Linked DNA regions of Homo sapiens. The protein of the gene in region 1 purifies or fractionates together with the protein of each later gene. This does not show direct contact. Each region holds a gene or a part of one and is shown in the gene's direction. Other genes may lie near its edges. The genes, in order: TPMT and PPWD1.

What was found.
Region 2: the proteins of TPMT (region 1) and PPWD1 fractionate together in Homo sapiens (co-fractionation; one large-scale study listed by BioGRID). This does not show direct contact.

Annotation. Positions count from the first base shown.
Region 1 is NC_000006.12:18,134,355-18,138,176, reverse strand, and holds part of TPMT (thiopurine S-methyltransferase), read left to right. Parts: intron 1-3,822. UniProt on the Homo sapiens protein: Catalyzes the S-methylation of thiopurine drugs such as 6-mercaptopurine (also called mercaptopurine, 6-MP or its brand name Purinethol) and 6-thioguanine (also called tioguanine or 6-TG) using S-adenosyl-L-methionine as the methyl donor.
Region 2 is NC_000005.10:65,573,260-65,577,081, forward strand, and holds part of PPWD1 (peptidylprolyl isomerase domain and WD repeat-containing protein 1), read left to right. Parts: intron 1-3,619; coding exon 3,620-3,810; intron 3,811-3,822. UniProt on the Homo sapiens protein: PPIase that catalyzes the cis-trans isomerization of proline imidic peptide bonds in oligopeptides and may therefore assist protein folding. May be involved in pre-mRNA splicing.

The DNA of each region.
Region 1 (3,822 bases):
TCAAAGAGATTAAGTTACTTGTCCAAAGTTAAGCAGCTGGTATGTGACAGAGTTGAGATTCAAAACCAGAGTGTTTGGCTTTGAAGTCCATACTTGTGGCCGGGTGTGGTGGCTCACGCCTGTAATCCTAGCACTTTGGGAGGCCAAGGTGGGCGGATCGCCTGAGGTCAGGAGTTCGAGACCAGCCTGGCCAACATGGTGAAACCCCATCTCTACTAAAAATACAAAAATCAGCCCAATGTGGTGGCCTGTAATCCCAGCTACTCAGGAGGCTGTGGCAGGAGAATCACTTGAACCCAGGAGGCAGAGGTTGCAGTGAGCCAAGATGGCGCCATTGCACTCCAGCCTGGACGACAAGAGCGACCCTCCATTTCAAAAAAATGAAATAAAATAAAGTCCACACTCATGATCCCTTTGTTAGACTACCTCAAAGGATTTTTGTGGGAATTGAAAGAAATGAAATATGTAGGAAATACCTTGTCATCTCTAAAGAACTGTATAAATGAGAGCTGTTATTATTGAAGCATTGTTATTGATGTTTTTGATGACCATTCTTATTATACCGAGTCTTGTTAGAAAATAAAATTAAAATATGAGTGAGGAAGCATACTGAGTAAAATGTGACCACATCTGTATACTCTTTCAATTAAAATAATGTCATTTATGTGCTTACTTGGATATAGCATGGAAATATTGAATTACTTAGTTGTATGGAGCAGACTCATCACTTGGCCAAAAAGGAGGCTGGGCGCAGTGGCTCACGCCTGTAATCCCAGCACTTTAGGAGGCTGAAGTGGGTGGATCATGAGGTCAGGAGTTCGAGACCAGCCTGGCCAACACAGTGAAACCCTATCTCTATAAAAATACAAAAATTAGCTGGGCTTGGTGGCGCACACCTGTAGCCCCAGCTACTTGGGAGGCTGAGGCAGGAGAATTGCTTGAACCCGGCAGGTGGAGGTTGCAGTGAGCCGAGATTGTGCCACGGCACTCCAGCCTGGGCAACGGAGTGAGATTTCATCTAAAAAAACAAACAAACAACCAAAAAAAAAACAGGTTAGGCTCCACATCAGTGAAATAAGATTTTTATTTTTAAAAATTGTTTCATCAGTAAGGCTTACTGCCAAACCTAATCTTTTTAAATTAGACCATGCCGCATCTTAATTTTCATGCTCCTGTTTCCCTCTTTTTCTCACTGCTCCTCCTTTATCTCTTTTCCAGAACTCCCATCCTCCTTGCATGCCTAAAAGTCGTGATTCCCCAAGGGACCACCATCCTCAGCCTTATGCTCTCACCCAAAAATTGCCAATATTTGTCCTACCAGAAAGAAAAAAAAATTTTATGAGAGAAAAATCAAATCTTTTTTTTCGAGACAGAGTTTCGCTCTTGTTGCCCAGGCTGGAGTGCAATGGCACTATCTCGGCTCACCGCAACCTCTGCCTGCCAGGTTCAAGCGAATCTCCTGCCTCAGCCTCCCAGGTAGCTGGGATTATAGGCATGCTCCACCACACCCGGCTAATTTTTTTGTATTTTTAGTAGAGACGGGGTTTCTCCATGTTGGTCAGGCTGGTCTCGAACTCCGGACCCCAGCTGATCCACCCGCCTCGGCCACCCGGTGCTGGGATTAGAGGTGTAAGCCACCACGCCTGGCTGAAAAATCAAATCTTTAAAGATCAATTCTGTTACTTTCATTCAGCTATTCAACAAATATTTACTAAGTTCCTGTGATGTTCCAAATAGATAGTATGCCAGAGGCGGGGCAAGTAACTGAACAGATTATACATGGTATTCGCTCTGACAGTCTTTACATTTCCAGCTCTGTTCTTTCTCCCAAACATCCACATCACATGTCCAGTGTCTGCTTTGCACTTCCCATGTGACATCAGTGTCCTTTAACAACTCAAAATATCACCGAGACCTCTGTCTCCGTGAGACACATTTGTATATGAAACCCCATCTGCTAATGTCTAAATTTGTAGGTGTTTCCCACTCCCTGAAGATGATCATCCATTCCTTAGAGGTTAGTCCTTCTACAGGCTCTGGTTGGCATGGTAAAATCCACCAAGCAGTGGGAAGCAAACTAAAAGTCACCACGTGCAGACCAAGAGCGGACCCAGCACTTTGGGAGGCTGAGGTGGGCAGATCACCTGAGGTCAGTTATTTCCCCAGTGTCTGATATAATATATATTTAGCACCTAGTAAGAGCTTAATAAATGTTGTTTAAATAAATGAATGGAAGAAGTGAACTGCACTCTGAGCAAGGGCGATATTAGTTTACTATGTACTGGTAGTATCTTAGGGTTTTTTTTTGAGATGGAGTTCCACTCTTGTTGCCCAGGCTGGAGTGCAATGGCATGATCTCGGCTCACTGCAACCCCTGCCTTCTGGGTTCAAGTGATTCTCCTGCCTCAGCCTCCAGAGTAGCTGGGATTACAGTAGCGCCACCACACCCAGCTAATTTTGTATTTTTACTAGAGACGGGGTTTCTCCATGTTGGTCAGGCTGGTCTCGAACTCCCGACCTCAGGTGATCTGCCCACCTCGGCCTCCCAAAGTGCTGGGATTACAGATGTAAGTCACCGTGCCCAGCCTTATGTTAGTATTTTATATATGTGCTGGTACTTAGTATCTTAGTTCTTTATCTACATGCTGGTACTCAGTACTTACCATGTTAGCACATTATATTGGTGCTTTCGTTAGGACTGGGTGTCTTCTCCTTAGATTGTACATTGTCAAGTACTGATGTATTTTCTGCTGTGACTCTCGAGTTCTTGCCTAATGTAAACCAGTAGGGCAGACCTCATTTTTCTGGACTTTTTGAGACTGGTTGAGAGAGAAAAACTTCACATTCTAAGAGGAATGAAGTCTTTCAGTCCTAGGAAACCCTACCAAACCAGTCTGACATCCCCCTCATGGGGACAGCAAGTTTCTTCTGAAAAATGAGAATCAGAAAGTAACAGTTTCTGTTCAAAAGTTTGCTTTGATGTGGTTCTTTCACCTACAAGGAAGAGTGATCCACTGGTGAATTCTCACAGTTTGTGAGGTGGTTATTAGTCTTATCCTCATGTTACAGGTGAGGAAACTGAGGTACAGAAAGGTTAAGAATTTGTCAAGCTTACATAGCCAGTCAGTAGAGGAGCTGGGGTTTGAGCCTGGGCATCTCATAGAGTCTGCACTTGCCTCCCCAACTTCTGGCAGACCTCTGGACATAGATCACAGTCTAGCCAGGCTCCATAGAAACTGGAGTGCCAAGAGCCCAGGCTCCTTCCTCAGTGTGGGGAAGGGTGTCCATCTTTGTCCTTGGCCTGTCTCTCATGGCCTCTCTACCACCCTGCATGCGTCTCCTGTCCTCTCCTTATCCCTCAGCTTCCTCCATTTTTATTCCCACATAGCTGACTTGCCTTCAACGGTCAGCCTCCTTGCTCCAACCACCATACAATACAAAAGCTCCAACTTTCAGTAGGACCACAGCTAATTAGCAATTCCTCTTTGGTCTCTTAATTCAGTTTCCAAGTCAGTCATCTGATTGGTCAACTCATCGTCTGTACCTGGTCCAGCCCTGGCTTCTGCTCAGTCTATTGATGGGTCCTGTTAGCATCAGCTTCCCACTCTGAGCCAATCAGACCTGGCTCCCTGAGGCACCTACTCAAAGGACAGTTCCATTGCACTCATGGTTTATGCCACACTTGCAGAGCTTTAATTTCATGCCACCTTTTTTTGGCCTGCTTGTTACTCTCATTTCTAACTAAATAGAGGAAAAAAATTGTGTTTTCTCTTACATAAGGCCCCTGGAGGGGTCCCAGTCACCCAGGATATTTGTTAAATT
Region 2 (3,822 bases), on another chromosome or scaffold:
TAGTCATCCTGTCTTGCACAGTTTTTTTATTTTTTATTATTTATTTATTTAATTAATTTATTTTCTGAGACAGAGTTGCACTTGAGTGCAGTGGCATGATCCAGCTCACTGCAACCTCCGCCCCCTGGGTTCAAGCGATTCTCCTGTCTCAGCTTCCCAAGTAGCTGGGACTATAGGCGTGTGCCACCACACTTAGCTAATATATATATATATATATTTTTTTTTTATTAGAGATGGGTTTTTTTTAGTACAGATGGTTTTTTTTTTTTTTTTTTTTTTTTTTTTTTTTTTTTTAAGTACAGACGGGTTTCACCGTGTTAGCCAGGCTGGTCTTGAACTCCTGGCCTCAAGTGATCTGCCTGCCTTGGCGTCCCAAAGTGCTGGGATTACAGGTGTGAGGCACGGTGCCAAGCCAGCAGAGTTTTTTTTAATGTGACTGTAGATCACTGTTTCTTTTAGAGCATTTGATATGGTCATATTATTTGATTAATGTGTATCACCTCCAGTAGACTAAGCCCTATGTGATCTGTTTTAACTTATGATTCTATCTCCAGCAGTGAGAACAGTACCTCACACAAGAGTTACTCAAATATTTTGAAAGAGTGACTCTAGCCATCACTTGTTAGACTGCTAACAAGAATTTGTTACAGCATGTAGTCGTGGAATAAGAGTTTTTAATCCATGCAGTTAAGCGGTTTCTGTGATTGCAACTATTGCCATCAAGTGGTTCTCTGAATCCTCTGAGTCTGGATTGAACCTTTGTAGCAAAGTTTATTGTATGACAGTGTCAGTTCTTTTGTCCTTGGCAGTGACCAATTTGCATTGGATTCCCTGCTGTAAGCTCTTCATAAATTCTGTCAACTCTTTCTAGTGGCGATCTTGATTTGGTGGCACGTGGTAATAAATGAGTTGGTTGTCTGTCTGTCTGAAGTAATATATTTCCAGACAAATGTGAAGATCTGTTTGCCAGCCAAATTATCCTTATGACAAATTTTCTTGTTGGAAGAAGATAGCTTTCCACTCTGCTTTTAAGGAGAAACATTTATCGGTAATACTTTCTTTAATGGTGGCAGATAACTAAATATGACTTGCAATTTAAATATAATTTTAAAATTCTATTAACTTGCAGCTCTTCCAAGATCCCTTAGGCAAAGAAATATTCAGAATCTAGTCTCTGGACACAAATCTCTTTTTTTTTTTTTTTTTTTTTTTTTTGAGACGGAGTCTCGCCCTGTTGCCCAGGCCGGACTGCGGACTGTAGTGGCTCAATCGCGGCTCACTGCAAGCTCCGCTTCCCGGGTTCACGCCATTCTCCTGCCTCAGCCTCCCGAGTAGCTGGGACTACAGGCGCCCGCCACTGCGCCCGGCTAATTTTTTGTATTTTTAGTAGAGACGGGGTTTCACCTTGTTAGCCAGGATGGTCTCGATCTCCTGACCTCATGATCCACCCGCCTCGGCCTCCCAAAGTGCTGGGATTACAGGCGTGAGCCACCGCGCCCGGCCGGCACAAATCTCTTAACACACATACTCTGAGCTGCTCAATCCACTCTATTTGCTCATTGTTGTCTTCAACATTTGCTTAAATGATTAGCCTGAGGTGACAAGAAGTCAGTAGTAGAACTTAAGACAGAAGTGGAGATTCAGAATGAGAGTTTGCCAAAAAAGCCAACCATCAGTTAAATTACTTACAGTGCTAGTGACTAGTAAATGACTGGAATCTCAAGGAGGTGGTAGTGGAGGAGGGTAGTTTCTAACCAGTCGGAATCCTAGTTTAACAGAAAAGAAATTGAATGGGATGGTGTAAATTATCTTTTAGTATTTATTAACCAGGGTCACTATATATGGCTGTGCAGTTGAATATCACAGAAGCCCTGCTATGAAGTCTAGAGCACTCTGAAAAAGATTCTGATCAGGTACTTACCAGGTTGGATAACATTTATGGAATACTTATATAGGGACAGATGACCACCTACAGACCTTATGCCTTAAAAACTGAGTCTTCTCTCCGGCAGAAATGATCATTAGCCCTTCCCTGCAAAATGTGTAGTCCAGCATCCTAGGCTATTCCTGGCACATGAATAAGCAGCGTAATATGTATCAGTCTCCCTGTCTTTGAGACTAGAGACAAGAAAACCTAACAACTAGGCTTTTTAACTGTTCTGTAAGACCTTGACCTTGTGCTTATACCCTAACACACATACCTCATTTTGATTTTTTGAGTTTTGTATATAGTTCTAACCTTATCTAGAAAACACAAGATTATGGTTAATATAAGCATGAAATAAGGATAGAATTAGATGGGACAGAAGTCTGGCTTATTTTCATCTGCAATGGAGAGCTATTTTTGAATGCTACTGTTTGATGCCCTGATTGTGTAGAAAAGAATGTAAAGATCGTTACTCTTTTGGAAGGTTCATAATATGTTAATACAGTTATTGAGATGTGATGCCTATCTTGAAATTTGTGTAATATCAAAAGAAAAGTAAACCAAATTTCCAAACTATAAAGGACACTTATAGAAATAGTCATGTCTACTAAATAACATGTACCTAATGGTAATCTCACTGCCCTGTGTCAGAATAACTTGAGACATTTTCTGAAATATTATGAATTTGTTATAAATTAGTGAGATGAATTCATTCAGCAAAAATTGAGTGCTTGTTATGTCAGGCACGTAACCTTGCTCAAGGACCTCATAGTCTATAGCTGCATTATCCAGTATAAACAGTCACTAGCCACGTGTCTACTGAGCATTTGATAGATGGCTAGTCCAAACTGAGATATGCTGAAAGTGTAAAATACAAGATTTCAAAGACTTAATTTTTTTTAAAAGAATGTAAGTTATCTCAATTTTTTATATTGTTGAGATGATATTCTGGATATTTTGAGTTTAATCAAACATTAAAATGAAATTCACCTGTTTTCTTTATACTTTGTTTAATGTTACTAGACACTTTAAAATTACCTATGTGGCTTGTGTTATATTTCATTGGAAAGTGCTACTCTGTGACTTTTAAAAGGCAGCAGATGTATTCTGTAGAGAAAGCAGTAGTTCTATTAACCAACCGGGTTTTGTTTTAAATTAGAAGAACCAGTTACCATTTTGAAATACAATTTTTTTTTTTTTTTTTTTTTGAGACGGAGTCTCACTCTGTCCCCCAGGCCAGAGTGCAGTGGCGCAATTTCGGCTCACTGCAGCGTCTGCCTCCTAGGTTCAAGCGATTCTCTTGCCCCAGCCTCCCGAGTAGCTGGGATTACAGGCACACATCACCATGCCCGGCTAAGTTTTTATGTTTTTAGTGGAGACGGGGTTTCACCATGTTGGCCAGGCTGTTCTTGAACTGATGTCAGGTGATCCACCTGCCTTGGCCTCCCAAAATGCTGGGATTAGAGGCATAAGCCACCATGCCCAGCCTGAAATACTATTTTTTAGTGATTGGACTTACTAATGTCTATTTCATATTGTTTAGAATCCCTCTTAAGAAGTACAAACAGTTAGTGGCTCTTAATATGTATTCTGCTTCTATTTAAATTCTCATTGCATATATAGATAGATGGGTTGATATAGATATAGGTATATGTATATAGAGTTTTTGTTACTAAATGGTTTATTTCCTAGATGTTTACTGAACTGCAACAGATGAGGCAACAGTTACCAGACATGGAATTTGGCCGACGAATGGCTGTAGAACGTGAGTTGGAGAAGGTTGATGCTGTAAGATTAATTAATATAGTTTTTGATGAAACTGGACACTTCGTGCTGTATGGAACAATGCTGGGCATTAAAGTTATAAATGTAGAGACAAACCGGTAAGCTTTAAT